Linked DNA regions of Homo sapiens: region 1 is linked to region 2. The links come from fine-mapping of genetic effects on gene expression. A gene starts in region 2. The other region holds a variant in brackets. All regions are shown on one strand. Distances are between the middles of the regions.

What was found. PIP is the estimated chance that this variant, and not a neighbour inherited with it, causes the effect.
Region 1: its variant is fine-mapped to the expression of AHNAK in whole blood (TOPMed, PIP above 0.99).

The regions. Positions count from the first base shown.
Region 1 is chr11:62,423,186-62,439,443 of GRCh38, reverse strand. It overlaps LOC102723765 (a long non-coding RNA gene), which reads left to right and starts at 12,521. Exons shown (of 4, transcript XR_007062699.1): 1 at 12,521-12,757. It overlaps SCGB1A1 (secretoglobin family 1A member 1), which reads right to left. Exons shown (of 3, transcript NM_003357.5): 3 at 16,249-16,258. It also overlaps a transcript of AHNAK not described here. RefSeq lists enhancers at 4,370-4,869, 4,870-5,371, 12,736-13,283, 14,633-14,702, 14,743-14,832. The variant A/G (reference allele first, on the strand shown) is at 10,193.
Region 2 is chr11:62,538,344-62,554,601 of GRCh38, reverse strand. It overlaps AHNAK (AHNAK nucleoprotein), which reads left to right and starts at 7,796. Exons shown (of 5, transcript NM_001620.3): 1 at 7,796-7,942. RefSeq lists silencers at 7,645-7,814, 7,935-8,004, 8,285-8,334, 8,345-8,464, 8,995-9,124 and 1 more and enhancers at 1,820-2,625, 2,626-3,431, 7,159-7,689, 8,268-8,778, 8,779-9,289 and 4 more.

The sequences.
Region 1 (16,258 bases), 120 kb after region 2:
AGAGTACTAACCAGCATTCACTTTACAGATGAGAAAAATAGGGAAACTGCCCAGGCGCGGTGGCTCACGCCTGTAATCCCAGCACTTTGGGAGGCCGAGGTGGGCGGATCACAAGGTCAGGAGTTCGAGACCATCCTGACTAAAACAGCGAAACCCCGTGTCTACTAAAAATACAAAAAAAATTAGCTAGGCGTGGTGGCGGGCGCTTGTAATCCCAGCTACTCGGGAGGCTGAGGCAGGAGAATGGCATGAACCCGGGTGGTCAGAGCTTGCAGTGAGCGGAGATCACGCCATTGCACTCCAGCCTGGGTGACAGAGCGAGACTCCATCTCAAAAAAAAAAAAAAAAAAAAAATAGGGAAACTGAGAGGGATGGGTGTCCATCCCTCTCCTTCCTGGTTCACTTTGGAAGATGCCACCTCTGTTAAGGGCCGCTCCTGTGGGATTTCAGCAATGCAGCCAGGTCAGCAGTGGTACCTGTTGATGCTACACAGCAACCTTAGGATGGCAGGCTGCATAGTCCAAAGGCCCAGGAAGTCATTATCATATGAGCATTCTCATGTGAGCCGGTCATGATTAGTTTTTCTATGAGACCTTTGCTCCTCATTGAAATAACAACAAATCAGTTGTCTCCACGCCAGAGGAAGATACCACATAAAGCAAGACTAAAAGGAGCAGAGAACAGAGAAGGTCTTCCTGGCCTTAGGGATGGGCAAACATTTCTAAAACAGAATGCAAACAGCACTAACCACAGAAGAAAAATCGATGAATTGGACTTTATCAAAATTAAATCCTCTCTTCATCCAAGGGCACCATTAAAAAAATGAAAAGGCAAGCCTCAGACCTGGAGAAGATATATATCTGCAATACATATGTCTGATAAAGTATTCGTTTCTAAAATATTTGAAGTACTGCAGATCAATAAGAAAACTAAAAATGACCCAATTAAAAAAATGAGAAAAAGAGGCCAGGTGCGATGGCTCATGCCTGTAATCTCAGCACTGTGGGAGGCCGAGGCAGGTGGATCACCTGTCAGGAGTTCGAGACCAGCCTGATAAACACGGTGAAACCCTGTCTCTACTAAAAATACAAAAATTAGCTGGACGTGGTGGCAGGCACCTGTAATCCCAGCTACTCGGGAGTCCGAGGCAGGAGAATTGCTTGAACCCGGGAGGCAGAGTTGCAGTGAGCCGAGATCACACCACTGCACTCCAGCCTGGGAGACAGAACAAAACTCAGTCTCAGGAAAAAAAAAAAAAAAAAGAGAGAAAGAAAAAGACTTGACCAGGCACTAACAAAAGAGGATACCCAGATGGCCAAATACACTGTGAAAAGGTGCTCAACATCATTATTCATCAGAAAATGCAAATGCGCTGGGAAATTAGCTGAGCCTGGTGGCACAAGCCTGTAGTCCCAGTTATTTGGGAGACTGAGGTGGGAGGATCATTTGAGCCTAGGAGTTTGAGGCTGCAGTGAGCTATGATCATGCCACTGCACTCTGGCCTTGGTGACAGAATGCAAAAGAAAAAAAAAGAACAACATAGACACACAAAACTCCCACAAAAAGATACTACTACACACCCACCATAATAGCTAAAATGAAAAGACTGACAATACCAAGTGTTGCTGAGAATATGGAACAACTAGAACTATTGCATATTGCTGTGGGGAGTGTGGAAGAGGTACAGCCACTGGGAACATTGTTTGGCAGATTATATTAAAGCTATAGATATGCCTGCTGTACAACCCAGAAATTCTACTCCTAAGTATTTGGGTAAGGGATTTGGGCTGGGCGTGGTGGTTCACACCTGTAATCCCAGCACTTTGGGAGGCCAAGGTGGGTGGATAACCTGAGGTCAGGAGTTCGAGACCAGCCTTGCCAATATGGTGAAACCCCGTCTCTACTAAAAATACAAAAAAAATTAGCTGAGTGTGGCAGATGAGTGCCTGTAATCCTAGGTACTCAGGAGGCTGAGGCAGGAGAATCACTTGAACCCAGGAGGCAGATGTTGCAGTGGCTGAGATTGCACCATTGCACTCCAGCCTGGCAGACAGAGTGAGACTCCGTCTCAAAACAAAACAAAACAAAGCTGAGGGGTTTGAGTGCCTATGCTGACAATAATGTATGTACAAAAATGTTCAAAGAAGTTTCTCCAAACCTGAAACACCCCAAATTCCCATCAACAGAAGATTGGAGAAATAAATTGGTGATCTATTCATATAAGAGTACTATGCAATGATGAAAAGATTATATGCTCTGATTCCATTAATATATGGTTCAGAAAGAGGCAAAGCTGATCTATAATGAGTCAAATCATGATTCTGTCTGGTGGGGATATGGATTGGGAGGGTGCATGAGGGAACGTTTTGGGGTGCTGGAAATATTCCTTATGTGGCCTGGAGTGGTGGTTATAGAAATGCCTATTTATGAAAATGATTATCAAGCTGTCCATTGTGTGCTTTATGTACTCTGATGAATGTATGTTATACTTCTTTTTTTTTTTTTGAGACAGAGTCTTGCTCAGTCACCCAGGCTGGAGTGCAGTGGCGCGATCTTGGCTCACTGCAAGCTCCGCCTCCTGGGTTCACGCCATTCTCCTGCCTCAGTTTCCCGAGTAGCTGGGACTACAGGCGCCCGCCACCATGCCCGGCTAATTTTTTTTTGTATTTTTGGTAGAGACTGGGTTTCACCGTGTTAGCCAGGATGGTCTCGATCTCCTGACCTCGTGATCCACCCACCTTGGCCTCCCAAAGTGCTGGGATTACAGGCGTGAGCCACTGCGCCCGGCCTATACTTTTTTTTTTTTTTTAATGAAAAGAAATGCAGATTTTCATGTCCAAGAGAAGTAATAACAATAATAATTTATGGAGCACCCAATATGTGCCTGGTTGCTTTATAGAGATTATTTGCCTTAATCTATCCAAACCACCTGTCAAAATGATATTCTTTTCTTGTTAGAGAGGAGGAAACTGAAGCTTAGAGAGGGACAATAGCTTGTCTGAGTATCACAGCTGGTAAGTGTGGGAGTTAGACTTGAATGCCATATTCTGCACTGTTGCCACTTGGCTTGGGATGTTGAGAGTGAATCTTGGTACAGCATCAAAGCTCTCTGTGTTGCCTGCTACTCCCCCGGAGCATCAGATGTTGCAGACACCATTCTTTAAAGAGAACTTCATTGTGTGAACCCCAAGTTCCCCCACCTTCTTCAAAACAAAAACATGAATTGGGAAGCCCAGCCCCTTTATGAACCCTTTCCATGAATTTGTTCCAATCAGGAAAAGAGCCTGCAACTTCCTCCCCACCCTGTTCATCCTAACTGTTCTGTGTTGTGAATTCGCTGAGAATGAAAGGGGATGGGCTAGAGCTGTCAATACTGTGAGCCAGGCTTGAACTCCAGCTCTGCTCCTTTTAAACAGTGAGGCTCTTGGGTAGTTATTTAACTTCTCAAAGCCTTTGTTTCCTGGTCTGTGAAAAGTGACAGTGGTACTTCCCTTCTAGTCTCACTGTGAGAGTTAAATGCGGTCATATGTAAGAAGTGCTCAGCTCAGCGACAGGTTCATAGCAAGTGTGCAATAAAAGGTAGTGTAGAAATGTCAAAACTGGCTGGGTGCGGCCAGCCTGCAATCCCAGCACTTTGGGAGGTCAAGGCAGGAGGATTGCTTGAGTCCAGGAGTTCAAGGCCAGCCTGAGCAATATAGTAAGACCCCATCTCTTAAAAAGATAAATAAATAGGCCGGGTGCGGTGGCTCAAGCCTGTAATCCCAGCACTTTGGGAGGCCGAGGTGGGCGGATCACGAGGTCAGGAGATCGAGACCATCCTGTCTAACACGGTGAAACCCCGTCTGTACTAAAAATACAAAAAAATTAGCCGGGCGAGGTGACGGGCGCCTGTAGTCCCCAGCTACTCGGGAGGCTGAGGCAGGAGAATGGCGGGAACCCCGGGGGGCGGAGCCTGCAGTGAGCCAAGATCGCGCCACTGCATTCCAGCCTGGGCAACAGCGAGACTCCGTCTCAAAAAGAAAAAAAAAAGATAAATAAATAAATAAAGCTTTCACTTTCCTGGTGCCTAATTCCTTCCAAGCCTCTTAAAGAGGCTTAGCACCTTTGCCCTCTAAATAATTCAACACACATTTGGAAGAAAGAAGTTATGTGAATGGTTTCTTCACAAAGTGTAACATATAGTGAATAAATGGGGCAGAATTGCAGGACTTCAGCAAGGAAAGGGGGGCATTTTGAACTAGAGTGGTCAGATGGTGGTATTATTTGGCTGAGTCTTCAAAAATGGGTAGGATTTAGTCACAGAGAGAAGACCAGGAAGGTCATTCTCAATTAGGGGGAGGGCAGGAGGTAGTTTTTAGGAGCCAAGGTAAAGTTTGGGAAGGGTGAGCAGGTGATTTTGGTTGGTGCTTGAAACTTGTGTAGGGACTAGTAGAAGATAAAGTAGGAAAGGAGGCCTGGTTCCAGATGAGGTCCCATTAAGAAAGCTGGCTTTTTTTTTTTTTTTTTTTTTTGAGACAGGGTCTTGCCATGTTGTCCAGGCTGAAGTGCAGTGACAGGATCTTGGATCACTGTGCAACCTCTGCCTCCCGGATTCAAGTGATTCTTCTGCCTTAGTTTCCTGAGTAGCTGGGATTACAGTGTGTGCCACCACACCCGGCTAATTTTTGTATTTCTTTTTAGTAGAGGCAGGGTTTCACCATGTTGGTCAGCCTGGTCTTGAACTCCTGACCTTAGGAGGTCCGCCTGCCTCGGCCTCCCAAAGTGCTGGGATTACAGGCGTGAGCCACTGCGCCTGGCCCGAAAGCTGGATTTGTTTCTGTTGGAAAAGGAGTTGCTGAACTTTCTTGAGCGCAGGAGGTGTAAGATGAAGCCTGGGGCATGCAGGCCCACGTGGGAGGTGAGAGAGACCAGGCCAGGAGGCCCATGAGAGGACAACCTGCGCATTCATGGGAGTCCGATGGGGATGAGTTGGGTGTGACTCGGGGAGGAGGCACTGGGCTGGGACAGAAGATGTAGTAGTTAGGCTCTGGGAGACGACAGGGAGGGAAGGTGAAGGGCCATGAAGTCTCAAAGCCAGTTGCTTGGGTTCATGAAGCAGAAAGGGTTCATGAAGAGGAAAGGGAAGAGAGAAAGTCAGTTTGGAGATGATAATGAAAGGGATTTCTTAATGGCTGAGGCTGGAGGTGGCAGCTGTTTTCACGGTTCCTACCTTCCTCTGTTATTTGAATGTTCTTGGGAACACACTGTCCTCTTCTGGTCTCGGGCTTGTATGGGGGGCACCAAAAGGACAGACTCGGGCTTTATGCAAGCTTCCTTTCCACCCTTGCCGCACAGAAACCACACAGAGGGAGGCGTGGCAAGACCAAAAGAGACCCAACAGCAGGATCCTTTCCAAATCTATCCCTTCCAGAGGCAAGCATTTGTTTGGATGCCCTAGCAAGGAGTGGGGGGACCTTCTTTCAGTTGGTGCAAAGTTAACGAACCATCTTCTGATTTTATGGAGAGATGCAAATAGTGTGTTGAATATAAATCTCTTTGTTGTTGTTTTACAGGACTGTAGAAGCGGCCAGGAAGAAAACCACCCCCTCTTAAGGTTGTTTTTGTGACCGTTCTTTGGAGCATTGTTCTAAAAATGGGAAATTACATATTGCTGTGCCAAGGGCAACAAACACCTGCAGTTAAAGGAATACCTTCCGCGAGGCGGCTTTTCGGAGCATGCATGTTTATAGCTCCAGCCAGGCCAGACCGAGGGCTGCTGCATAAGCCCTGCTTGGTGCATTTCTTTACTTGCAAGGGGACAGAGTGTGGGCTTAGGTTTGGGACTAGAGGGGGCTTTGGCAACTATGGTGCTCAGGTGATTATCCTTCGCTCGTTTATCCAATAAACATTTATCAAGCATCTGTTCTTGTGTCAACCTTTGTGGTTTTCTCTGTTCCCTTCCCTGGCGTTGTGAGAATCCCTGGGAGAGTTGGCCACAGGCAGCAGCTTGCTGTCACTATTTTTTTTTTTTTTTCAGTTTTCAGAGTCAGCACATGACTGCTGCCTCCACATGACCGAGAACCCCCGCGCGTTCTCTCCTTTCTCTCTTTTCTTTCTCCCTCTTACACCCCTTGCTCCCCCTCCCCTTTCTCTTTCCTCTTTATTTATCTAAAAAAGGAGAAATGTAATCTTTTTTTTTTTGAGACAGTGTCTCACTCTGTCACCCAGTCTGGAGAGTGCAGTAGTATGATCTCAGTTCACTATAACCTCCACCTCCTGAGTTCAAGTGATTCTCGTGCCTCGGCCTCAGTAGCTGGGATTACAGGCCTGCCACCACGCCTGGCTAATTTTTGTATTTTTTTTTTTTTTTTTTTTTTTTAGTACAGACGGGATTTCACCACATTGGCCAGGCTGGTCTCAAACTCCTGACCTCAAGTGATCCACCTGCCTCGGCCTCCCAAAGTGCAGGGATTACAGGGATGAGCCACCATGCCCGGCCAATACATGTATTTTTTAACATGCCAATCGATACGTTTCTTCAGGCACACGCCTTTTCAAAGTTTCCTGTCACTGGGGGTCAGTCTGAAATTCTTATTCTATGGTAGCAGACGTTAAAGGATAACTTTCGATTATCTGGTTAATATTTAACTTTTATCAACATTGATATTGCAAAATAATCAGGTCTTGAAATTTATCAAGCATGAAATGAATACCATTCAGATGGATTTGTGGTTTAAGAGGAATCCAGTTTCATAAACGAGTCTCATCTTTTTTTTTTCTTTTTTTTTTGAGACAGAGTTTTGCTCTTGTTGCCCAGGCTGGAGTGCAATGGCGTGATCTCGGCTCCCTGCAACATCTGCCTCCTGGGTTCAAGCGATTCTTCTGCCTCAGCCTCCCAAGTAGCTGGGATTACAGACACCCGCCACCACGCCCAGCTAATTTTTGTATTTTTAGTGGAGATGGGGTTTCTCCATGTTGGTCAGGTGGGTCTCAAACTCCTGACCTCAGGTGATCCACCTGCCTCAGTCTCCCAAAGTGCTGGGATTACAGGGGTGAGCCACCGTGCCTGGCCAACTAATCTCATCTTTACCTAGAAACAGAAAAGCAGGGAACAACGGAATACGATGAACTTCAAACTTTTTTTGCATTTTGGTTAGAACTTCCTGCCCACAGAACATATGAATTCCTCAAATGGGTCAGCCACAGAGTAATGGGAGGTCTTTTTGGGGGTTTAGGGTCATGTCTCAGGGGCCACTTGGTTATTGATATGGTCCTCCTGGAAGCAGAGAGATGGAATAAAAAGGTCGGGAGGCCAAGGCGGGCAGATCATGAGGTCAAGAGATCGAGACCATCCTGGCCAATATGGTGAAACCCTGTCTCTACTAAAAATACAAAAATTAGCTGGGCATGGTGGCATGCATGCGCCTGTAGTCCCTGCTACTTGGGAGGCTGAGGCAGGAGAATCACTTGAACCGGGAGGTGGAGATTGCAGTGAGCCAGGATGGCACCTCTGCACTCCAGCATGGCAACAAAGTGAGACTCCGTCTCAAAAAAAAAAAAAAAAAGGTCTCGAGTCCTGTAATATACTTAATTTACTGTCTTGGCTTCCACCTTGGTTTCAATTTTTCCACTAGAGGGTCAAAAGTAGAATCCTGCTGCTCTGATCAAGTACTTGACGCAGATGTACATTCGAATGATTTATTTTCCTTTTGCTTTCTTGGGTTTTCTAATTTTTCTACAATGAGTGGCAAGATAACTAAAATGTGAATCATGCCTTCATAGGACTCACATTCTAGAGAAGGCAACAGTTAGAAGCAAACATGCTATAGTAAGATAAATACATGATTTATCCCACTGTAAATACATGCCCCAGATTAGGGGCGTGGAAGCTCAGCAGCAGAAAGAGCCCCTGAACCTCAGGGCACAAAGTGCTGGGTAGGGAGAACAGGGAGAAAGAGCCCACAGACTAAGTCGTGAAAGAATCTGAAGGGGGCCAGACTTAGCAAATGAAATACAGTATGCCCGTTAAGTGTGCATTTTAGATAAATAATGAAACAATTTTTAGTATAAGCATGTCCCAAGTGAGTCATGAAGGATGGAGTTTGGTTCTTCCAGGGACTTTGGGAAGGGAAAGCATTTCAGTTAGCGGGAACTGTTTCTGCAAAAGTGTGGAAGTGTGAATGGCATGGATTTGTTGCCTGTTTCAAATGTGAACGTCTGTGCCTCGACATGAATCGACAAGCCTTACTCAGAGGGCAGTTTTATTTCCGAGCATCATCCACTGCTGCACCCTCAAAGTGAAGGGTAGGTGGGAAGCAGCAGGATTTGAGGCCACAGTGGGAAGCAGGGCCACCATCTCCAGGAGCCTTTGATGATGGGTGAGGGGTTTGGACTTTATCCAACAGGGGACCAGGAAGAGGGAAGGATTTTAAGCAAAAGCATGAACTTCCTGTTTGATTTTTGGCAATCATGGGAAGGAAGTAAGACTAAAATCTTAGAGACTATTTAGGAGGCAGATTAACGGCCCCTCAAGGATCTCCACGTCCTAATCCCCAGACCCTGTGCATGTGTTAGGTTACCTGGCAAGAGAGAATTAGGGTTGCACATGGATGAAGGTTTCTCATCAGCTGACCGTGAGAGGGGAGGTTGTTTTGGAGTATCTGATGGGCCCAGTGTAATCACAGAGATCCTTATGAATGGAAGTGGGAGGCAGAAGAGGAGATCAGTGTCGGAGAGAGAATTGCAGAGGCTGCCCTGCTGACTTTGAAGATGGGGAAGGGGCCATGAGCCAAGTAATGCGGGTGGCCTTTAGAAAATGGAAAAAACAAGGAGACAGATTCTCCCCTGGAGACTCCAGAAAGAATGCAGCCTGCCAACACCTTGGTTTTTAGCCCAGTGAAATGCATTTCAGACATCTGGCCTCCAGAACGAGAAGATCATAAATTTGTGTGTTTTTAAGTTATTAAGTCTGTGGTAAGTTGTTACAGCAGCCATAGAAACTAATGTAGAGGCTGTTTGCAATGATCCAGGTCACAGATGGTGAAGGCTTGGAATTGGCAATAGGGTCAAGAGAAGGGGATAAGGGCTGGGCACGGTGGCTCACGCCTGTAATCCCAACACTTTGGGAGGCAGAGGCTGGCAGATCATTTGAGTCCAGGAGTTTGAGACCAGCCTGGCCAACATGGCGAAAACCCGTATCTATGAAAAAAAATACAAAAATTAGCTGGGCATGGTGGTGTGCGCCTGTCATCCCAGCTACTCAGGAGGCTGAGGGAGGAGGATTGCTTGAGCCTGGGAGGCGGAGGTTGCAGTGAGCAGTGATTGCAACCTTGCACTCCAGCCTGGGTGACAGAGTGAGACCCTATCTCAAAAATAAATAAATAAAAAAAAATAAAGGGATCAATTCCATGTAAGTTGAGATGGACTCAGAGACCGACTGGACGCCTAAGGTCAGGAGGTCAGGAGATCCCCCAGCCCAGCAACCCTTTCTCCTCTCCTGATGCCCCAAGGCCTGCTCCTCCTTCCACAGCTCCCAGGGAGCCTCTGATCAAGTCTCTATCCTGTCCCAGGGCTGATTAGTACCTACTTTTGTGACAGGGGCCTAACAGGGAATTCTTTTTCATTTTTATTTTTGAGATGGAGTCTCATTCTGTCACCCAGGCTGGAGTGCAGTGGTGTGATCTCGGCTTACTGCAACCTCGGCTCACTACAACTTCCGCCTCTGCAACCTCTGCCACTGCAACTTCTGCCTCCTGGGTTCAAGTGATTCTCTTGCCTCAGCTGTAGCGGGGACTACAGGCATGCGCCATCATGCCCGGGTAATTTTTGTATTACTAGTAGAGATGGGGTTTTGCCATGTTGGCCAGGCTGGTCTCGAACTCCTGACCTCAGGTGATCCGCCTGCCTCAGCCTCCCACAGTGGCTTGAGCCACTGCACCCAGCCCTAAGAGGGAACTCTAAAGGAAGCTCTGTAGGTATCTGCCTCGTGGTTACACACACAGGGTGGCTGTGAAACCGCCTTTGCAAAAATTACAACTGAGGAAATTATGACAGTGAAAGAGATCAGACCTAACCGACTCCATCTTCCTTCTAACCTTTAAGCTGTCCTTGTTCATTCCTGGGCATAGGCCTGAACTAACTTTGGGAAGGAATTCAGTTCATGTTTTGACTCTGAAACAAAATTGATAATAGCCATTTCCCTAAAAAAAACCCC[A/G]TTCTTGCCTGTGGACCAGTCTGCCTTTGCAAGACTAACAAATTAGCTACAAGATTAGAAATTTAGTTTAGCGGTCATGCAGCCTCTGGCTCCAAGAGTCTGAGCCTCCCCAGATTGCTCCTGCAGATAACATCACTATTGTAAAACCTAAGATCAGTGCTTGAGATAGTTTGCAGACCCTGCATTCGATGGATCAGCTGACACAACCCAGACTGGTAATCTGGCTCAACCATTTCTGCCATCCTCCCCAGGAACAGAAGACAGCAAGAAAACCACACTTCCACCCCCTAGGATTCCATCTCCAGCCTGACCAATCAGCACTCCCTGCTTCCCAAGCCCTTACCCGCCAAATTATCTTTAAAAACCCCGATCCCCGAATGCTCAGGGAGACTGTTTGGAGTAATAATAAAACCCAGTCTCCCACACACCAGCTCTGTGTGAATTACTCCTTCTCCACTGCAATTCCCCTGTCTTGATAAATTGGCTCCGTCCAGGCAGCGAGCAAGGTGAACCCACCGGGCAGTTACAGCTATGGGCATATAACTGCAGGTATTTTCAGAGTTAACTAGACTCTTGTGATTAGCTGGGAATCCATTCACTTGATGGGGTAACAAATCTGAGTTCCAAACCCCCGGTTTATCAATTCCCAAGCTGGCAATCAATTCCCATGCTAGCTTAGCTAAATGTATTTTCAGATTTTTTTTTTTTTGGGGACAGAGTTTTGCTCTTGTTGCCCAGGCTGGAGTGCAATGGTGCGATCTTGGCTCACTGCAACTTCTGCCTCCCAGGTTCAAGCGATTCTCCTGCCTCAGCCTCCCGAGTAGCTGGGATTTCAGGCACCCACCGCCATGCCTGGCTAATTTTGTATTTTTAGTAGAGACAGGGTTTCTCCATGTTGGTCAGGCTGGTCTCGAACTCCCGACCTCAGGTGATCCGCCTGCTTCGGCCTCCCAAAGTGCTGAGATTATAGGCGTGAGCCACCGTGCCCAGTCTATTTTCAGATTTTTTTGCATGTACTATAGTTTTATAATTTTAGTTTGCTCATGGAAATATGTTGGGTGGCTAACTACTGATGATTCATCCTCACATTATCCCCATGTGCCTGTTGGTGTATTCTGAAAGTGCTTGGGAGGAACATCCCCTAATTACATGTTTCAGAATGCATTGTTTGTGTGGCCTCATCATCATCAATAAAACTTCTCTTGATCGTCTATCTGAAGCCATTTTGAGTGGCAGACACCCCTATGGTGATTACTGCCCACAAATCCCTTGGCTTTCGAAAACAGCAGGGCTTGCATCAGCTGCAAACTAGACATAATTTTATCCATATCATCGTGATAAGGCTAATGAAGGCTGGTTTTGCTTCTTCTTCCTGCCTCATGAGTCATTTACAGATATTTCTGTCAGGCTAACCTCAACTGTCTCTCATACACAACGGCAGCTTTCCTACTGATCAATTAGTCCAGGCACATTGACACAAGCCCCTGGATTTTGCAACGTGATGGCGGTGTTTGACAACTACCATTCTGCTTTAGCTTTCCTCCAGAGTAAGTTTCCTTTGGTTGCAGATTTCAGGGTTAACAGATACTTTCAAAAAGTTTTTCACTCAGATTCAGTTTTCTTGACAATGTGATCAAGAAATGTGGTCTTAGCGGGGCGTGGTGGCTCAAGCCTGTAATCCCAGCACTTTGGGAAGCCGAAGCGGGTGGATCACCTGAGGTCAGGAGTTTGAGACTAGCCTGACCAACATGGTGAAACCCCGTCTCTACTAAGAATACAAACAAATGACCAGGCACGGTGGCTCATGCCTGTAATCCCAACACTTTGGGAGGCTGAGGTGGGCGGATCACCTGAGGTCGGGAGTTCAAGACCAGCCTGACCAACATGGTGAAACCTGTCTCTACTAAAAATACAAAATTAGCCAGCCATGGTGGCATGCGCCTGTAATCCCAGCTACTTGGGAGGCTGAGGCAGGAGAATCACTTGAACCTGGGAGGTGGAGGTTGCAGTGAGCCGAGATTGCGCCACTGTACTCCATCCTGGGCCACAGAGTGAGAAACCGTCTCAAAAAAAAAAAAAAAAAAAAATAGGCCATAGCCTGAGCTTAGCCTGCTGGCCATAGTCTACAGACCCATGCTATAATACACGAGTAACTGGTGTGAGTAACTACACACAGACAGAAAAGCACCCAGTGAACAGTGCCTTCATTTCTCGAATTTCCTGCTTTCTGTCAACATGCATCACACAGTTACATGCTCTTCCTGTGGTTGCAATCAGTTTATCTTTGCATTCTGCTGTTTTAAAATTTAACGCCCATTTCTGTGGATTGGCATAGCCCACATTCTTGTGAATCACCCACAGTGATTCCTGCAGTGTTGTCCCCAGCCTCAAGCCTCTCTGCACCGTAATTGTGCTTCTTTTCCTCAGATACCTGCCTTGCATTGGCCCTGGGTAAATGTTTCCCTTGGCTGTGAATAGGCAATTAAAATTCTGAACCTTTTATGGCTCTGGAAGCTTATCCGATGAAACAATACTCATCCAGGCGGATGGCCCACCAGCGCAAAGGTATGTGCTTTAGGATGACCTGGTGAAGGAGAATGTGATGCCTCAGCAGGGAGGGAGTGGGGGAGGAGAGGGAGCTGGGCAGCCCCCATCAAGGCCCCACCGGAGGCAAGGAATCTCTTTTGGAGTTGCCAGTCCCCCAACCTGCTCCGGAATTTTTACAATCAGATCCCCTCCTTCGTGGCTGAAAATGAAGGGCACGGTGGCTTTCTAGTTTGTGTGTGTGAGTGTGTGTTTGGGGGTAGGTGGACTTTGCTCATCACCATCATTTGGATTTTTGGCTCTGGGGATTCTGGAATTAGGGATCCCACCACCACCTGCAGGGCAGGGGTTGGGGCACGGGCTCTGGAATCTGGGTTGTGTGAGGAGTAATTGAGAGATTGCAAGGCCCGGCGCGGTGGTTCACGCCTGTAATCCCAGCACTTTGGGAGGCCGAGGCTGGTGGATCACGAGGTCAGGAAATCAAGACCATCCTGGCTAACACCGTGAAACCCCATCTCTACTAAAAATACGAAAAATTAGCCTGGCGTGGTGGCGGGCGCCTGTAGTCCCAGCTACTCGGGAGGCTGACGCAGGAGGATGGTGCAAACCCGGGAGGCAGAGCTTGCAGTGAGCCAAGATCACACCACTGCACTCCAGCCTGGGCGAGAGAGCAAGACTCCGTCTCAAAAACAAACAAACAAACAAACAAACAAAAAACCACTACTGGCTGAGGGCGGGCGCGGTGGTTCACGCCTGTAATCCCAGCCCTTGAGGGGCCAAGGCGGGTGGATCACCTGAGGTCAGGAGTTCGAGACCAGCCTGGCCAACATGGAGAAACCCTGTCTCTACTTAAAACACAAAAATTAGCCAGGCATGATGGCAGGAGCCTGTAATCCCATCTACTCGGGAGGCTGAGGCAGGAGAATTGCTCGAATCAGGGAGTTGGAGGTTGCAGTGAGCTGAGATCATGCCACTGCACTCCAGCCTGGAGACAGAGCAAGACTCCATCTCAAAAAAAAAAAAAAAAAAAAAGATTGCGAAAGCGCCTGCCAGCACCTAAGCAATCAATAAGGGTTATTGGGTTGTGGTTTCTGCCTGGGGACTTTAGAAACCGGGCAGGTGGAGGTCAAAGGCCAGCCCCGCCAGCTCCGCATGGTCTTCTCCACCTTTGGGGCCATCTCAAGTTCTAGATTCCATGAACCTTGCCCTTGAAATCGTCTGGGAATGGAATTATTGCTAATCCCAAAAAGGCTGACACATCACTCCCTGGCAGGGTTCAACCGGGTGGCAACATGGTTTGTGTGGCTGCCCCTGTTTTCCCTCAGAATTCGGATTTTAAAACTTTCAAAATATGAGATTTTTATTTTATATATATATATTTTTTATTATTATTTTTTTTTCGAGTGCGATGGCACAATCTCAGCTCACTGCAACCTCCCAGGCTGGAGTGCAGTGGCGCGATCTCGATCTCGGCTCACTGCAACCTCCGCCTCCTGGGTTCAAGCGATTCTCCTGCCTCAGCTTCCCAAATAGCTGGGACTACAGGTGCGCGCCACCACACCCAGCTAATTTTTTATTTTTAGTAGAGATGGGGTTTCACCATGTTGGACAGGCTGGTCTCGAACTCCCGACCTCAGGTGATCCACCCGCCTCGGCCTCCCAAAGTGCTGGGATTACAGGAGTCAGCCACCGCGCACGGCCGAGATTTAAAAAATTATACGGATGACACCAGATCCTCAGAGCCGGAGCTCTGGGTGCCTCAGCCCCGACAGCGCGTCCGCTCCAGGACCCTGTGGACGATGCTGCCCCCTAGTGGCCGCGGGGCACAAGGCCCACCGGACCACGTTGCTCCATGGAGGGGCTCGAACTGGAGAGCTCCGTCTCTAACCCGCCGCCTCCTTCCGTGCCCTCTGCCGACGCCCTTCCGATTCCTGCAGCCCCTCTGCAGTCCTCCACCTTTTTCTTTCTTTCCTTTTGAGACAGGGTCTCACCTTTGTCACCCAGGCTGGAGTGCAGTGGCATGATCATAGCTCACTGCAGCCTGGAACTCCTGGACTCAAGAGATCCTCCTGCCTCAGCCTCCAGAGTAGCCAGCTCTACAGGCATGCGTTACCAAACTCGGCTAATTTATTTTTATTTTTGTAGAGATGGAGTCTCACTATGTTGCCAGGCTGGTCTTGAACTCCTGGGCCCAAGCCATCTTCCTACCTCAGCCTCCCGAAGTGCTGGAATTACAGGCATGAGCCACCAAGCCCAGCCAATCCTCCGCTTCTATTTAGGTGCTGTGGATAATGTGGCCCAGCAGGGGGCTGGCTGCCATGAAACTGGCCGGGGATTTGGGGGTCTTTATATCCACATGGATGCATCTTTAGGATGAGTTCTATTCTTTGCACATTTTGCTCTAGAGCAATTTTAAAAACCAATCAGCCACAATTTTTTTTTTTTTTGAGATGGAGTTTCACTCTTGTTGTCCAGGCTGGAGTGCAGTGTCACGATCTCAGCTCACTGCAACCTCTGCCTCCCAGGTTAAGTGATTCTCCTGCCTCAGCCACCCGAGTAGCTGGGATTACAGGCACGCACCACCATACCTGGCTAATTTTTTGTATATTTAGTAGAGATGGGGTTTCACCATGTTGGCCAGGCTGGTCTCGAACTCCTGACCTCAGGTGATCCTCCCGCCTTGGCCTCCCAAAGTGCTGGGATTACCGGCGTGAGCCACCGTGCCTGGCCATCAGCCACACTTTTTGAGCAGCCAGGGCTGTGTGGCTGGTACAAAGGTCTTAAGGTTGAAAGGGGCTTGGCTCTTTTTAAAAACTGAGGGCAGGGAAGGTGGGGGTGTGTGTGGGGACTGAGCAGAATGAAGGAGCCGTGGGAAGGAGGAGCACAGGAAAGACTGGTGAGGGGCCACTATCTATCGTCAGGATTTAGGATTTTACAATAAGAGCCCTAGAAAGCTTTGAAGGATGGGGAGGGACTTTGCACTTGAGAAGAATTCCTTTGGGTTGTTGGAGAAGGGATTGTGGGGGCCCTGGAGTCTGGCTGGGAGCCAGAGAGGAGGCCCCGGGGGCTGTACAGGCAGGGATGGGGGTGTTGCCTGTGGACTTGGAGTGAAGGATTCCAGAGGCCCTTTAGAGGTAGCCTGGGTTGGCTAGAGAAGGAAGGATCGCGGATGCTCCTCAGGCTGGTGCAGCCCAGCGGGGAGGATGGAGCCAGAACTCACTGAGATAGGAACAGACTGGGGCAGGATCACTGGTTCTGTTGGACAAGTGGAGTCTGTGATGTTGAGTAGAGTCTGTGATGTTGAGTAGATGGTCTGATATAAGGGGAGGGGGCTTGAGCTCTGTTGGAGGCAGAAACCTAGAGGAAAAGAGCTTTGGAAGAGCACAGAGATTTCTGCTGGGATCCAAGGGCAGAGCTCGGCTGCTTTCCTTTTGTCCTGGCTCACCTTACCCTGACAGGGGCAGACCCCCCACCATAACAAGGAGACCAAAACCACGCAGGGGGCACAAAAGTGAGATGCTT
Region 2 (16,258 bases):
CCCTCTGCAGCAGGAACAGCTGTCATGTGAAGGCCTCTCTGCTGGCTCAGCCCTTTTGCAATCATCTGGCGGGCTCTGCTGGGATGGGGTGGATGGTGAAGATGGGCAGAGCCAAGGGGTGAAGGAGGGAATGTGGTAGGGCAGGGGGAGCTGTCAGAGGGTAAGGAGGGCTCTAGAGTTCAGGGCTGAGGGAAGAAGGGCTGCCAAGGTCAGGCAGGAGGGGTGGAAGCTGCTGAGCAGGCCAGGGAGGTGGAATGATGAGCTTACGGTACCCATCCTGGGAGACTTTCAAGGTGGAAGGATAGTTGGTTATAGCGGGAACCCAGGCAGTCATCCTTCAGGGAGATCCGCATTTCCCCTGACTCACAGGGGACCCAAGGGGTGCTTTCCGGCTCTTCTTCCATGTGGGACCTGAGTCACCAAGATGCCTAGGGTGTTGGCTGCCCTATGGTGGCAGGTCCTGTGCCCAGCCCTGCCCTACCCTACCCACTCTTACTGTTAGGACAGGGGTTAGCAAACACGCCCCTTTTATCCCACTCTTCAATAGTAATTACCCATCTCTTTGACTCAGACATACAGAATGTACCTCTTGCAGGGACTGCCAGAGACCGTCTCTAATAACCCGTTATTTTACCAGTGGGGAAACTGGAGCCCAGAGAGTTGAAGTGACTTATCAAGGGTGCATCCGAGCTTTTCCACAATCCTTGCAGTCACTCACTGAGTCACTTCTGCTCCAAAGCTGAGCAGGAGGATGCTGCCCTCAAATGCTGAGGGATAAGGGTGGTGGACACAGCATACCAAGTGTGGAGGGGCAGGGAGAGCGAGGCATCTAAAGGCTTCCTGCACCCGTAGCTTGGTAAGGGTAGCTTGGTAAGGAGCGTGGAAGTGGAGCCAGCCCTGGGGCCAGGGTCAGATGTAGCGATCCAAGTCCTGGGGCGGGCACAGGGCACGGAGTGTAACAGAGGCGGGACTTCGAGTGACAGGAACCTCAACTATGTGGTGACTCAGGCTCTGGGCAGCCTAGGCCCTTCCTTCCCTGCTCAGCCTGATCTCCTTCAACTGGACTTAGGGAACTGTAAGCAGAGGAGAGAGGGAAACCCAGGCTGGTCTCTCTTTCCCCAGGAAGCTGGGGGAAAGGCAGAGGAAGTTGGAAAGGACAGGAGAAAAGCAGATTCCAAGAAAGGGGTGAGGAGGTGGTGTTCCCCGCTTCCTCAGCCCCTCCCTCCCTGCTCCCCACTGGGGAGGGGAGCTGGCTGGGGCGTTGGCTGCTCCGTTTACTCCAACTCCCTCCCTCGGCTCCTGTTTACAACTCAGCCCGCCCAGTCCTTAGCTCAGTGCTGAGCTCTTCTGTTTTCTCTCTCTCCCTCCCTCCTTCCTTCACAGCCTCATGTCTTGTCGCTTCTTTTCCTTAATCTCAGGTCTGCATCTCCTCTTATTGCCCCACAGCATTCCCACACCCCTAACTCTGCCTGAAATCCAGCCATGACCCATCGTGTCCACCTGCCCCACTCTCCCTGCCCAATTTCTTTCCCTTCCACCTGCCTGGACAGTCTTTCTTTGCCTTCTTTCCTCCCAGACGGTACTCTGGAGACAGCCTCATGTCTCTTGTTCTCTAACCAGCTTTAACTTGGGTTCTGGTTGGGCTTGAAGATTTCATTAGGACTGAGTGTAATTGGAGAGTTTCTGTGTATCAAAGCTCTCTGATCTAAGAAATTCAGGAACTCCTTATTTGAAGCTTGAAGTTTAAATACAGGCTGGGATTTGAATTGAGCTGGGGAAGGATGATTTTACTTGGCTTTATATTTTCGGCTAGGGTTAAGGGTTTGGGGCTTGAGAATTGCTTAGGAAATAATGTTTGGATTCCAGAATCACCAGATAGATTTGCTTTTGGGGGGTGGGGTGGACAATGACAGATTAGGAAGTGACGGAAGTGAATGGAGAAGGGCCTGTTTGGCAGGGATGCTAATCCCTGGGCTGGTGTGTGTATGGGGTGGAGGCGGGGTCTGGGAGATCCCAGATGGTGCTAAGAAGGGTTAACAGTCATTTCTTTGCTGCTGCTGCTGCTTTTTTTTTTTTTTTTTTTGAGACAGAGTTTTGCTCTTCTTGCCCATGCTGGAGTGCAATGGCGCAATCTCGGCTCACTGTAACCTCCGCCTCTCAGGTTCAAGCAATTCTTCTGCCTCAGCCTCCCGAGTAGCTGGGATTACAGGCGTGCACCACCACGTCCGGCTAATTTTGTATTTTTTGTAGAGACGGGGTTTCACCAGGTTGGTCAGGCTGGTCTCGAGCTGCTGACCTCAAGTGATCCACCCGCCTTGGCCTCCCAAAGTGCTGGGATTACAGGCGTGAGCCACCAGGCACAGCCCATTTTTCTGCTTCTAAGAATATCATGCAAAAGAACCTTCATGGGGGGAAAAGTCTGCTTCTAAAGAGACTGCAAACAGACCACACACTTCATTTGCCTTCTGGGATCAGAAACTGAGATTACCCTTTGAGCAGTCAACCTCTTTTCTTCCTTGTAACATGCTGATTTCAGAAAAGGGGACTGTGGAGAGAAGGGAGGGGAAGGGGAATCCCCTGGCCAGGGGCCTGCCCACAGAGCTCCCCTTTGTGGTTACTATGGAAACAGGCATAATAGGAACAAAATAGAGGCAGGTTGCCTGGCAACAGAAGAGCCCAAGGTTCATTACAGACGCGCGCACACACACACAAACTGACATATACACACACACGCAAAACAGGTACATATCAGGGAACCTCCCCCACTCCCCAGGGAGGCAGTGTCACTTCTGGGGAAGCTGGGGTATCCCTGTGATGACAAGTCCTAGAGCTCATCCAGCTTTGGCAGTGCGTGTGGAGCACTGTGGTACCAGCTCCCTCTGAATGGTGGTGGAGCACTAGCGGCAGGGCTGACCTCCCTCTTATAAGAGGAAAGCCTTTACTTTATATCACAGAGGAGTCTAAACCTTCGAGAAGATGGAGGTTTTCTTTGCAAAGTAGGGACCGAAAGAACTCCTTAATACTCCTTATAAAACATGGTGTGTAAAAACAAACAAAAAACAGGCCAGGTGTGGTGGCTCACGCTTGTAATCCCAGCACTTTGGGAGGCTGAGGCAAGCGGATCATGAGGTCAGGAGTTCGAGACCAGCCTGGCTAGCATGGTGAAACTCCGTCTCTACTAAAAATACAAAAATTAGCCAGGCGTGGTGGCGCGTGCCTATAATCCCAGCTACTTGGGAGGCTGAGGCAGGAGAATCGTTTGAACCCAGGAGGCAGAGGTTGCAGTGAGCCAAGATGAGCCAAGATCGTGTCACTGCACTCCAGCCTGGGCGACAGAGCTAGACTCCATCTCAAAACAACCACCACCACCACCACCACAACAACAAAACAACAAAAACACCCAAAACATAGTGTGTCGGGGGGGTGCTGGCGGGGGAGTAGCTGTGTAAATTACCTGGTAGGAAAGATAACTCCAATTCTCTGGAGGCATAGGACCTCCAAGGAATTCAAAGGACAAGGTAAAGGGGTATCGGAGCCGTTTCCGCCTGGACTGAGCTTTTTGCTGGGATTCCATCTTGCCAAGGTCTCTATTGCTTCCACCACCACCACAGTTCCCCAACCCCATATTGGACACACAATAAATGTTTGGGTAGCTGCAAGAAAGACCCACAAGTAGAGGAATTGCTCCCTGGGGGCTGAGAGCCAGAGGAAGTTGTGACAGCCTGGGATGCAGGATGCTATCTATTGTAGAAAAGGCAAGGGCTTTGGAGCCAGTTATACCTGGAGTTCATTCATTCATTTGAAACATGCTCTTGAGTGATTGCTATGTGTCAGTCAGTGCTCTAGGCATGAGGGGCCAGGGTGCGGTGGCTCACACCTATAATCCCAGCACTTTGGGAGGCTGAGGTGGGAGGATTGCTCAAGCCCAGGAGTTCAAGACCAGCCTGGGCAACATAGTGAGACCCTATCTCTACCAAAAAAAAAAAAAAAAATTAGCTGAGCATGATGGTGTGTGTCTGTAGTCCCAGCTACTTGGGAGACTAAGGTGGGAGGATCACTTGAGCTTGAGAGGTTGAGGCTGCAGTGAGCCATGAATGCTCCACTGCACTCCATCCTGGGCGACAGAGTGAGACTGTCTCAAAAAAAAACAAGCAAAAAACCAAAACAAAACAAAAAATCAGTTAATCTAGGCACAAAGCATACAGCAGAGAAGAAAGAACCCTGTCCTCATGAGGCTTAAATGCTAGCGGAAGCTTTGACTCTTGCCTCTGTGAGTTGTGTGATTTTAGGTAAATCACGAACCCTTTCTGAGACCATTCCTCACTAAGTGCCTCCCTCCCAGGGTGTGCAAGGATTAAATGAGCTGACAGATGAAAGTAGCTCCTGACAAAGTGGCTCACACCTGTAATCCCAGCGCTTTGGGAGGCTGAAGTGGGCAGGGATCACCTGAGGTCAGGAGTTCGAGACCACCCTGGCCAACATGGTGAAACCCCATCTCTACTAAAAAATACAAAAATTAGCCAGGCATGGTGGCACACGACTGTAGTCCAGCTACTTGGGAGACTGAGGAAGGATAATCACTTGAACCCAGAGGTGGAGACTGCAGTGAGCCAAGATCACGCCACTGCAGTCCAGGCTTGGCAACAGAGCGAGACTCCCTCTCAAAAAACAAAACAAAACAAAACAAAACAAAACAAAAAAAAAACCAACGAAAGTAGCTGCTGCAGGATCAGACACAATCATATTAAGGTAGTTTTGGGAGGGGGTGTGGGGGAGGCTACACCAGCGGGCAGAAGGAGAAGAGTTGGCAGAAGTTTCTAAAAGTGTGCGTTTCTCCACTTAACACCACTGAAAACTTTTGAAAATATTCCCCTCCCTTGGGCTGAGGTGGCAGTCTTAGGAAACCCCAGCTCTGTTCCAGCCTGCAGGATCATTTTTTTTTTTTTTAGACAGAGTCTCGCTCTGTTGTCAGACTGGAGTGCAGTGGCACGATCTCAGCTTGCTGCAACCTCCACCTCCTGGGTTCAAGCGATTCTCCTGCCTCAGCCTCCCGAGTAGCTGGGACTACAGGCGCACACCACCATGCCCGGCTAATTTTTGTATTTTGAGTAGATACGGGGTTTCATCATGTTGCCCAGGCTGGTCTTGAACTCCTGACCTCAGGTGATCCGCCTGCCTCGGCCTCCCAAAGTGCTAATTTTTATATTTTTAGGAAAGACGGGGTTTCACCATGTTGGCCAGGATGGTCTCGATCTCTTGACCTCATGATCTGCCCCCGCTCAGCCTCCCAAAGTGCTGAGATTACAAGCGTGAGCCACCGCCCCCGGTCAGGATCATGGTTTTTTAGAGGGTAGGGTTGAGGTTAAGCCTTCTCTAGCCCTCCAGTCTGGAATGGGACAAGAGCCAGTCCTCAGAACTACCCCCCGACCAGGTAATCTTGACATTCATATCCCTGAATGAAGTACCTGGTCAGTGATCTCTGCTCTGGGGCTGCTTCAAAAACCAACCTCTCCCTCCTGCCTTCTTCCCTGTTGACCAAGAGGGTGGCCAGAACAAACAATGGAGCAGATAAGTTGGCTCTGAGCCTGGGACTCTGGCCTCTGCTGTTTGGATCCTGGGGGGCCGATCTAGCCCAGTCGAGGCGAAGACACAGCGTCCACGCCTTTCCGTGCTCTTCTTCCTTTTCTGCTCTAGCAGCCCCCCACGCCCCCTTAGCCCTTTTTGCAGATACCCTGTGTTTCCAACCTAGGTGTGAATCAACTCCTGTTTTAATATGCACTGGGAACATTCGCTCTTTCAAGGAACGAGATGATGATTCATTCCATAAAGTTAAAAATCCTTTGGTAAACTGTTAACAATGGTTACTTTTGGGAAGAGGGACTGTGATAGGGGAGGAGGGAGAAGTCTGTGTTTTATTGTACTTTTTTTTTTTTGAGATGGAGTCTCGCTCTGTCACCCAGGCTGGACTGCAGTGGCACGATCTTGGCTCACTGCAACCTCTGCCTCCCAAGTTTAAGGGATTCTCCTGCCTTAGCTTCCCGAGCAGCTGGGATTACAGGCTGCGCCACCATGCCCTGCTAATTTTTGTATTTTTAGTCGAGGCGGGGTTTCACTATGTTGGCCAGGCTGGTCTCGAACTCCTGAGCTCAAGTGATCCACCTGCCTTGGCTTCCCAAAGTGCTGGAATTACAGGTGTGAGGCATCGCGCCTGGCCTTGGTAATTTTTTTTTAAGTGTTCTATAGCTCAAAAGTTTTAGATTTGTTTTTTCTTTAAATAAGGTAGGTGCTAGGAAAGGGGTGCAGAACAAAATGGGGGAGCAGGTGATTCTTGGGAAAGTGTGAGTCTGTGACTGTGTGCTTGGGATGTGTTGTGGCGAGGCTGCCTCTGCCATGGGGTTGAGTCATTATCTGGGCACCTGTGTGTGTGTATTAGAGAGAGCAAGAGAAAATGCTGGTGCCCAAGTCTCCGCTTTGTGTTTTCACATGTCTCTGCCTGTCTGGATGTCTGCACATGCGGCTCCACCTTTCTGTGTCCATTATATGAGTGCCCATGTCTGTGGTTCCTCTGGCTGTCTCTTCCCTCCCCCACGGCCTGTACTCTGTGCCGGTAACTGGACCTGGACACAGCCCCCAGGGCTGGCAGCAGAGTTGACTGCTGGGTATTTTTAGCCTGTAAACATGTTTGCCATTTCAGAGGACAGGGCCGAGCTGGTCTCAGCTCCAGCCCACTCATGATCTTGCAGCAAGGAGGGCGCTCCTGCCTTGGCCAGGTCTCCTTAGTTCCCCAGCCTGGGGTCTCTCTTTCCTTAGCATTTGGGAAGGAGGGGAAACTGGCTTGGAGCGGGCAGTGGGTGGCCACCTAGGAGGGAGGATAAAAGGACTCATGAGGGAGAAGAGAAAGGGAGTGTGGAGGGGAGTGTGTAGCCAGAAGGCCCCCGCACCCCATCATTAAACGTTTAATAAAATCTCGATGTAGTTAGAAGTGGCTGTGGGAAATCGCTGTAAATTAGGAGACTCAGCGTCCCGCAAGTGGGGAGGCGGGGGCGGCGCTCAGAGAAGGAATGGGAGGCAGAGGAAGCGCTGGGGCTCTGGCTCCTGGGGGCGGGAGTCTGGAGAGGAAGGTGGGCGTCGGGTCCGCTGTCCAACGCCCGGGGTCCTCACCCCCGTATGCCCGCGGCCTGCGCAGCACCGCGGTGCGCGAGGCACTGGTGACCCCGGCTCCTGGGGGGTGGAAATCCAAGCCAGTTCTGTGCGGATATGGACGGAGGGGCCCCCAGAAAGAGAGAACGCGAGAAATGGGCGCGGCAGCACGGAGCTTGGGAACCAAGCAAGGAGGCTGGGGCCTGGGATCTGAAGTGTAGTTGCCTAAGCTGAGAGAAAACTCAAAGGTCCGGAGCAAGCTGACGGTCGCGGCTGAATCACCCAGCCACCTTCAGAGCCCCCAGGCCCTTCCTGCAAAATAAGTTGATTCGCAGTTCCAGCTGTGAGGGTGAGCCCAGGGAGCCTGCAGGAGTTTCTTGCCAATGAAGCCACACAGTGCACATGTTGGAGAGCAGGTCCAGGTCCGGGACAGGACAGGGGGCAGTGGATGCGGGGAGGGGGGGAAAGAATGTCCCCGCGTCCCCCAGCGGCCCCCCTCCCCAGCAGCCCACTCCCGGGTCCCTCCAGGGTCTGCCCCGCTCGCCAGTCCCAGCCCCGCTCCGGCCCCGCCCGGCCCCGCCCTCTCCCCACAGCTCCGGGCAGACCCGCCCGCCCGAGCCGGAGTTACAAGAGCCGCCTCCGCGCACGGGGGCCCGGCCACTCGGAGCTGCTCTGCCGCGGGGACTGCACCGCCCGCCCTGCCAGACCCGCCCGGAACGGGGCTCGTCGCCGCCAGTAGCCGCAGCACCGCAGCCTTGGGCCTCGCGCCGGCTATGGCCGTGCCCTGGGGCTGAGCCCTCAGGTAGGGGCGCCAGGCGCACCGTGGCGCCATCGGGGTCCGGGGCACCAAGGGCGGGTCGCGGGGAGGTGGGTTGCGGTGCTCCGGCAGGGCGCGTTGTTGGGGGTGTCACTGTGAGGATTCAAGCAGTTTGGAGCAAGCGGGGCCACCCGGGGCGGCGACGCGTCGCTCTCTGGGAGCGGAGTTCTGCCTCTGGAGTTGGGGCGCAAGTTGGTTAAAGTTGGAAAATCGCTCCGAAGTGCTTTGCTCCACTCTTTATTTCTCCGGAGGGCGGACTGTTGGCTCCACTGCAAGGCAGGGCGCCCCGTTCCGGGCCTGGTGGCCTCTGTCCCACCTCCTCTCCCTGCATGGGGCGGTGGCTCGGGGGCTGCTCCGTTCGTATCCCATGTTTACTGGAGGGGAAATTTCCGAGATCGCCACCGCGGCCCCCAGCGCCTCCGCGCCTCCGCGACCCCGCACCGTGCGCCCCCTCGGCTGTCCTTCCGCGCTCCCTGCACCTCTGCCCCTAACCGCGTCCCGAGTCGTCCAGGCCCCACCCTGTTCTGTACCACCAGCCCCTCAGCCTCCTCCAGCTGCCCCGCCCTAGCCTTGCCTCTCCGCGTTCCCCGCTCCAGAAAACCTTCCTCTCGGGCCGCGGAACCTGGAAGTTTGCAATGCGCCTCCCAGCGGGATGGGTGGGGAGGGGGACAAAATTAGGGAGATTCCTATGCTGAGGTGGGCGAGGAGGGGGGTGCGCTGCGGCGGCCCAGTCCTCGGGACCGCCCCTTCCCCTCCGGAGGCGGCGCTTTCCCCCCGCCCAACTCCCAAACCCGTCCGGGCGGGATGGCCCCCGCCCCAGAGCCTGGCCCGGCGCCAGCAGCCTGAGGAATGTGGTGGTTGGAGCCGGTGACTAATTCAAACCAGAACTCAGGGAGGAGTGGTGAGGGGCAAAGGGGAGGAGGAAGGGGCTGTGTGTGGGAGTTGGGGGCAGGAGCCGGGCTTGGCGTGGGAGGAGGGCTAAGCTGCGCTCGCTGGAACCCTGCGCTCCAGCGGTGCGCGCCAGGAGAGGGGGCCCGAAGCGAGGTCTCGCCTAGAGTTGGAAAGGCAGCGTGCTTAGGGTGTGTGCAGAGCTGTGTTATGTAAGGCTTTCCCATGCAAGGGGAGGGGGTGTGTGTGTGCAGTGTGCGAGGGCCTGGGCCGTCCCTGGCAGGGCTGGTCGCCCCCCAGCAGTGCCCAGGCCGGGATGTGGGGGCGCAGCCCCTTGGCGGCGCTGACCATGAGGGACTCCAGGGGCCCAAACAGGGCTGGCTGTGCCCCTTGCTGGGAGGGGTGCGGAGGGGGCAGATGGGTGTTCTCAGCTGTAGCCGAGGCCCCACAACAAGGTGGGGAACGGCTCTGGCCCCTCTGCACAATGAGGCCACTGAGGGTTGTGTGCGATGTGTGTGCTTGCCGGTTTCGCAGGGTGTGGCTCCCGCCGCGGCGACCGTGGCAGTGAGGTGCTCCCAGGGAGCGTGCGGTCGCTGCAGAGTGCCCTGCTCTGTGGAGGGGATTTGTGGAAAGGCAGTGTGGGAGCCTCCCAAGTCAGTCAGGTCCTTAGACCTCCGGAGTCTCCGGAGGAAAAGGGACCGAGATATCTACCTCTGTGTCTCCAGCACAGCGCTGGGCGCTCAGTAAATACTGGTTTCGAACCCGTCTTCATTAGAATCCAACCTCGGATTGCAGGGCTCCTGCTCTCTGCTTGCCCGTCCCAGCACAGCCTAGTGCATGGTAGGTGTTGGGTTGATTTTGTGGAATACAGTGAGGGGCTGCAGCAGTGAAGCTGAGAGTGGGGGAAGGCGTTTAAGGGCCCCTGCACCTATACTGGCTGTAATTCAGGGTAGAGATCTCGCTTTCATCCCCTCCCCGTGAGGGAAATCCCAGGGGCAGGGTGTGGCACTCACTTCCTTTCAGAAGCTGAATGGGGGGAAGCTTCCTTCTCCAGTCCTTAGGGACAGCGGGGTCACCCACCCCCCACCGCGTGGATAGTGGCCTGTGCAGAATGGGGAGGACAGGGGAGCCCCCAAGTTAGGGGCACCTCTTTGCTCTGAGCTGTGAGCTTTGGGGTGAGGGAGGGTGGGAGAGGAGCTAGGGAGGGTAAGAGTGGAGCTAGGAGAGGTCGCAGGGTTTGGGGGCTGTGGGAATGTGGGTTAGAGGGTGTCTGAGCCCCTCTCTAAAGCCTTTGTCCCTAAGAGGTTATGCACAGGGACACTGGTCAGAGAACAGGGACACATGGGGAGCCACATAAGTCATGCGGGCTGATATGGAGGCCCACAGCAGCGATTCAGGGGTCCTGGTCCGGGAACTCCTTGAGGAGCCAACCCCTCGGAGCTGAGGACTTGTGGCAGCCAGACATGGTCCAGGGCCAGGGGTGGGACACAGGGACCTGTTGAGGGAGAAGGTCCAGCGTCAGCCCAGGGTACGGAGTTGGCTGGGGGTCCCCGGAGTCATCTTAGCCCTCAGGAAGTCCTGGGGAAAGGTGGCGGTGCTGCCAGGCTGGATTCTTTTGCTCGACTTGGAATTGGCTGGTGGGTCCTGGCAGAGCCGGTCACCCTGAGCCTGAGGAGCTGGTTTGAGGGGTTGGGGCAAAGCCGTGGGGGCGGAGGGGTGTGTGGGGCTCTGGGGTGTGGTCACCACCTTCTTTAGAACTTGGGAACTGCCTGGAGACAGACAGAGAGACAGACCGGGAGAGCTAGTCCTACTCCTTATGGGAACAGTGTGGCTCTCTCCCCCACCATTCCCGAGGCCCCAAAGTTTCTCTCCCCGGAGCTGGGCTGGCACCGTGCTGTGCACGCTTAGGTTTGAGGAAGGGTGATGGCCGCTGGGGAGGATTTAGAATGTGCTGCTTGGGCGGTGGCAGTGGCAGGGATGGAGGGCCTTCTGACTTCTCTTCGTCCCCCATCGATTCATCCAGGCTGGCATTTCCCTGGGCTCAGGCCATCCGGTGGGACTCCCAAGGCTTCCTGAGCACGAGCAATTTCCAGCGTTCCTGGGTGTGCCCGAGGGAGTGTGGGGGGCACGTGGGTGGGCCACAAGAGGATTCCGAAGGAATGAAGCCCCTTTTCCTCCCTGCTGGCCTCAGTTCCCACCAGGGCTGTGGCTGAGCTGTCGCTGGCAGTCTTAGGTAGGTCACTGATAGCATTGCAGGTGTCGTCCCACTGTGGCTTTAGGTCCTTGTGACCACCATGTCACAGCTTGTCTCTGAGTGAGATGTGTGTCATTGCCTGTGAGAGAGTATCCCACTGGTTGTGAATGAAGGTCTTCCCCTTGTGGCGTGCCTGGATGTGTCACCTCTGCCTGCGTTGTCATCGGGCTTGGAGGCAGAGGATGGCAGTGGCATTCTGCTCTGGTGGTGGAGGTTTCCTGCGGGCCCGTAGGGGTTGTAGGTAAGGACTGAAGTGAGTTTCTCGGTCCTGGACATGTCCGCACGCGCAGTTTGTGTCCAGAAGCCTTTGGGAGGTTGAGGACAGCCTTGGGGGTGCAGGCCCCAGCTGAGCAGGCTAAGCAAGGCACTGCACACGGCCTGTCAGGGAGGGGCATCCTGCCCGGTCCCCCGGGGGCTGGAGCGGAGGTTCTGGGGGAAGGGGAAGTGCCTGGAGCTGATCCCGTCTACAGCTACGTGTCCTGGCGGGGCTCGGGGGTAGCTCTTCAGCGACAGAGCCGGAGCGGCCTGGCCCCACGCCCCTGCAGTAGCGTGGTCCGACCGCTGGGGGGAGAGCAAGCAGCGCCCTCCCCAGATCCCGGCCTTGGGTGGGGCAGACAGGCAGCTTCCAAACTGTAATCTACCCCACAGGGCAAGACCAAGCGTTCTGCTCCACCCCCTCTCCTATAGGACGCCACCCTCAGAGTTGGTGTCTTAATCCCAGTGGTTCTGGGTAAAGGCCCACTCTTCCCTGCTTCTGTGTCCAGGTGTGGGGACTCCCCACTGGATCATAGGCTGTCCCCAGCCCCCTTTCACAAGGATTGCAGAGTCCCTCCTGGCCAGGGAGGGAAGAGGGAATCTCCCTCGCTGCTGGAAGTGAGAGCTTGGAGCTTCAGGGCTTCCAAGCTCACTGTAGCATGGGATGGGGCTGTGCGTGGCTGGGGTAGAGAGAGATGGAGAAAGGCGTCACAGCAGAGTCAGAAAGCAACCAGCTGGCTGAGGTTGGGGTGTAAGGGCTGCCCTGGAAGTCAGCATGATGTGAGGGGCCAGGGGAAGGGGGTGATGGGGAGGGGAGGGCTGGAATGACAAGGATGGAAAAACTTCCTCCTGGTGGGAGTTGTGGCTGGGCTGGCGCCTCCCTCTCCTAAGGGCAGGGAGCAGGGAGGAGGCCAGGCAGGTGCACACACACAAGGGGAGGTGCAGGCTCAAGGGACACAGGTGCCAGGTAAACAGGCATAGGGACCTGCAGGACAACTGTCTATTGTGAGCCGGTGAAGGCTGGCTGGGGCTGCAGGCTGCCCTGGGCTGTGTAGAGTGGAGAATGGGGCTGAGGGTCTCCGTGTACTAATGGTGTGTATGTGTGTGTGTGTGCTTGTGTGCCTTTCTTTGAAGGTGCCCAAGTTGCATGTGTTTTGCAACATGTTCATCTAATTCTTCCTGGTAATTCCACCTCCCTAACCTGCCCCTCCTCCCTGCACACTGCCCAGAATCAGCTAGGTGGGTTTGTAAAAGTTGTTAATGCCAGCTTAGACTCTGAGATGTCTGCGCACTTCTGCTCCGGTTAGAATGTGGCATAATGTTTTTTCCTAAACAAGCCTGGCAGCTGCATCCTCGGGGGTCCATTCAGAGGGCCAGGCCCTGGAAGGGATGTCACCCTTGTTCCTTTGGAACAAGGGCCTTGGGGGTCAGAGACTCCTGGGCTTGCATTTCAACTCTGTCTCACACTTGGGCAAGTCATCTTATCTCTTGGGCCTGCTTTCACTTCTCTGAAATAAGGATATTAATTCTTTTGACATAGCATCATCATTTGGGAGTTGAATGAGACCCCAGGCATGGGATGTTGCCAACACAGTCCCTGGCACATCAGAGCGCTCTGCAGAATTCTCTTTCTACTTGTGTGTGGGGTTTTTTTTTCTTTCAACATGGAACTTTCTGTTCCTCTTTGCCTCCTGTTGAGTGTTTATGAGAGCAGACCATACTGTCTTCTGGGTGTGTCTCTCTGAATAGCCTCCCTCTCCTCCTGGTTCCGAATGTTGGGGGCTTCCCCTCTGGTAGGGGTCTCTAACTCTGGGCATGAGTCATTTTGTTCCTGGGATGAGGACTGCTTCTCTTTGGCCTTGTGTGTGTGGTGGGTCGATTGGCCTATGTGCGTGCTGCCATGCTGGGCGGAAGTTTCACTGTGGCCGGTACCCTCCCTACCACGGATGGGGTGATTTTCTTCCCCTCGGAGGGTTGCCTCCTGTGTCCCGCCTGTGCTGGGTGGATGCACAGTCATGGGCCCCTGTGGTGTGTATCTTGTCCTCAGGTTTGGTGCATTTGGGCACTGAGGCCTGTGGCCTGTCTCTGGGGGAGTGTGTGTTTCAATTCCTGTCATCTCCACACTGACGCTGGCTGCAGGGCTGTCTCTAGCTGCTGCAGCAGTTGGCCCGGTTTCCATCCTGGCTGTCTTTATACTGGCTCCTCCGGGGAAGGGGCACTGTTCTCCGAGGGCAGTGGAGGAAGGAGGCTCCTCTGGAGGTCACCCCTGGCAGAGGCCATCTGCTGGGGTCAAGAATCTGCTTCCTGGAGTTCTGCGTCTACTTGGCGTTGTCCCCAGTTGCAGGGTATGGGCAGAGCCCTGCTGCTCGGCACATCCTCTTTGCAGTTTTGAAGTGACAGGATGGGCTGTTCTCTTGCTGCTTCTGGCCTGAATTACAGTCTGTCCCGCAGCGTCAGGCATACGTGCTCTCACCTTTGCAGCTGGAGCGGCCTCGCCATCTCATTCTTTTCTGCCCTCCAAGCAGTCTTCTGCCTTAGGGGGTCTCCACTCTGGCCCTGCTCCTTCTTTTTTTATTTAAAAAAAATACATTTTTATTTTTTATAGAGATAGGGTTTTGCCATGTTGCCCAGGCTGGTCTCAAACTCCTGGGTTCAAGCGATCAGTGTGTCTTGGCCTCCCAAAGTTCTGGGATTACAGGCATGAGCCACCACGCCTAGCTCTGTCCCGCTTCTTGCTATCACGAGGGAGGCTGTTGGGTGGACCACCGGGCTGTGTGCTAGCAGGCTCTGGGACTAGGGTCCCAGCACACTCCCATTCTCTCACCTCTCTGGACCTTACTTTCTCCATCCTTAAGTAACAGGCAGTGCCATCCCATAAAACTCTCGGCAGTGGGGGAAGTGTTCTGTGTCCACGCTAATATAGTAGCCAGTAGCTACATGTGGCTGTTGAGCTCTTGAAATGTGGCTAGTGCAGCCAAAGCTAAAATTTTAATTTAACTGAATTTTAATTGATTAAGTTTAAATAGCCACATGTGGCTGCTGCGTTGGGTGGCACAACTCTAGGTCTCTCCTAGCTCTGAAGGCTTATGGCACTTGGCTGAATCGTGCAGAATTCCCCAAAGCTCCAAAGACCTTCTTTTGGCTAGCAACAGGGCAGAGCCCTCAGCCTCCAGGGAAAGCCTGACTTAACCTAACTTGTGTGGGAGGAGAAGAAAGGACCACTTGGGCTTGATACAGGCTCCAGAGGTGGAGGAGAGACTGAGGGCTGGGACCCAAATGCAGAGAATGGGAAACCTGGCTACACAGTATCCCACGCCCCTCCTTCAGTATTCCCTTCAGTATTTCCATGCCCTTCCGCGGAACTGAATGGCCCAGGTCAGATGAGAGGGGAGTCCTTCCAGGCTGTGCCAGGACAGCAGGGCCACAGCCAGAGCAGGCAGGGTGGTTGGCAGCCCCACCTGGCCGGGAAGCCACTGGGTGCCCTGCCAGGGCCAACCTGCAGCTTCGGGTCCAATGGCTCCCGTCCTCACGGGCTATTGGATCGGTGTCTACTTAGGATGGTTTCTCCCCTCCTCAGGAACCACGTAGGTTGCATCTGTCCTGGGCCTCAAAAGGGACTTCTGCCCTGGGACTCTGCCTGAGGCCCTGGCAGGGAAGCCAACTGCCTGTCTGCAGGGCAGCCCTGGTTCCTCTGGCACCTGGGGGTCTGGCCCAGGAGGCACTTTGTCCTTGGGGTTTTAGGCTCAACCCTTTGCAGGTCTGGAGCTGTTGCAGCCAGCTGCAGTGACTCACTGGGGCGGGAGGGTGGGGCCGAGGTGTGGGCGAGGGTGAGCTGGCCCAGCTAGCTCTTTCCCCCTCGCTGGCTGCTGGCACAGCACCAGGATGCTGGGGTGAGCAAAGGGGCCCTGCTCCAGGAGGAGGACAGGGGTGTCTGGGCGATCTGAAGGAGTGGCTTCAGTTCTGTCTGAGAGATGAAGTCTGGAATCTGTTTTCCTTCCCTGCCTCTGCCTGGCTGCTTTTCTGCAGGGCTGGCTCCTGAGCACTGGACAGTGGGAGAGAATGTGCCATTTAAGCCCCAGCTTTGCTGTTTCTTGCTGGGAAGGGTCAGAGTGATTTCCTGTCGCAGCCTTCTCTGCAGCCGGAAGGGAGGAGGTGTTTTCGCCAGTTTGCACCTGAGCCCAGAGGCTCAGAGTCTTTGCTCACCTTGTAGCCAGCACCTGTGTTGACAAGGAGACACATTGTCCACACCGCGTTGTCAAACAGGAGGATGGCTGTCGGGGGCTGGGGTCTGTGTTTCTCTTTCATCCGTGTTGTGATCTGCCTGAGATAGGAACTGCTAAGTGCCCACGAATTCCCAAGAGACATAGTCTCATCCTCAGAGGTCACCTGTAGCACCTTCAAGACCCCATGTATATTTCATTTCCCCTAGAAGGCTCCCAAGCCTTCTGGAATATTCTGCGGCAAAATCGGTCACAGCTAGTGCACTTTGCTCATCATATGTATCTGTGACAGGAACTGAGTCTTAAATCTCCCTGTCTGGCACATGGGTGCGTGAGTGATGTGAGGTCACCGTCTAACGCAGCGTGTAATTAGGTGCTGGGCCCAGCTGTGTCCATCCCTGGCTGGTTCCGTCTGTAGTGCAAAGTATAGTGTTGGGCATATGGAGGCAGCCGGTATACATGCATTGATTGACTGTTGATACTTTCCGGATGTAAACGGCTGTAGGCGGGGCTTTGGCTTAGGTTCCCCATGACTTATAGTGTCCCCCACACCATTTCAATTGGTGGCTGCTGCCGCCATTTTGTGCTGTGGCTGTAGTCCGTGGCCCTATGCAGAGTCCTGCCTGGTGTCTTTCTAGGGCACCTGCAGATGACAGCTCACCTTGTGGCTGGAGGGCGAATTTA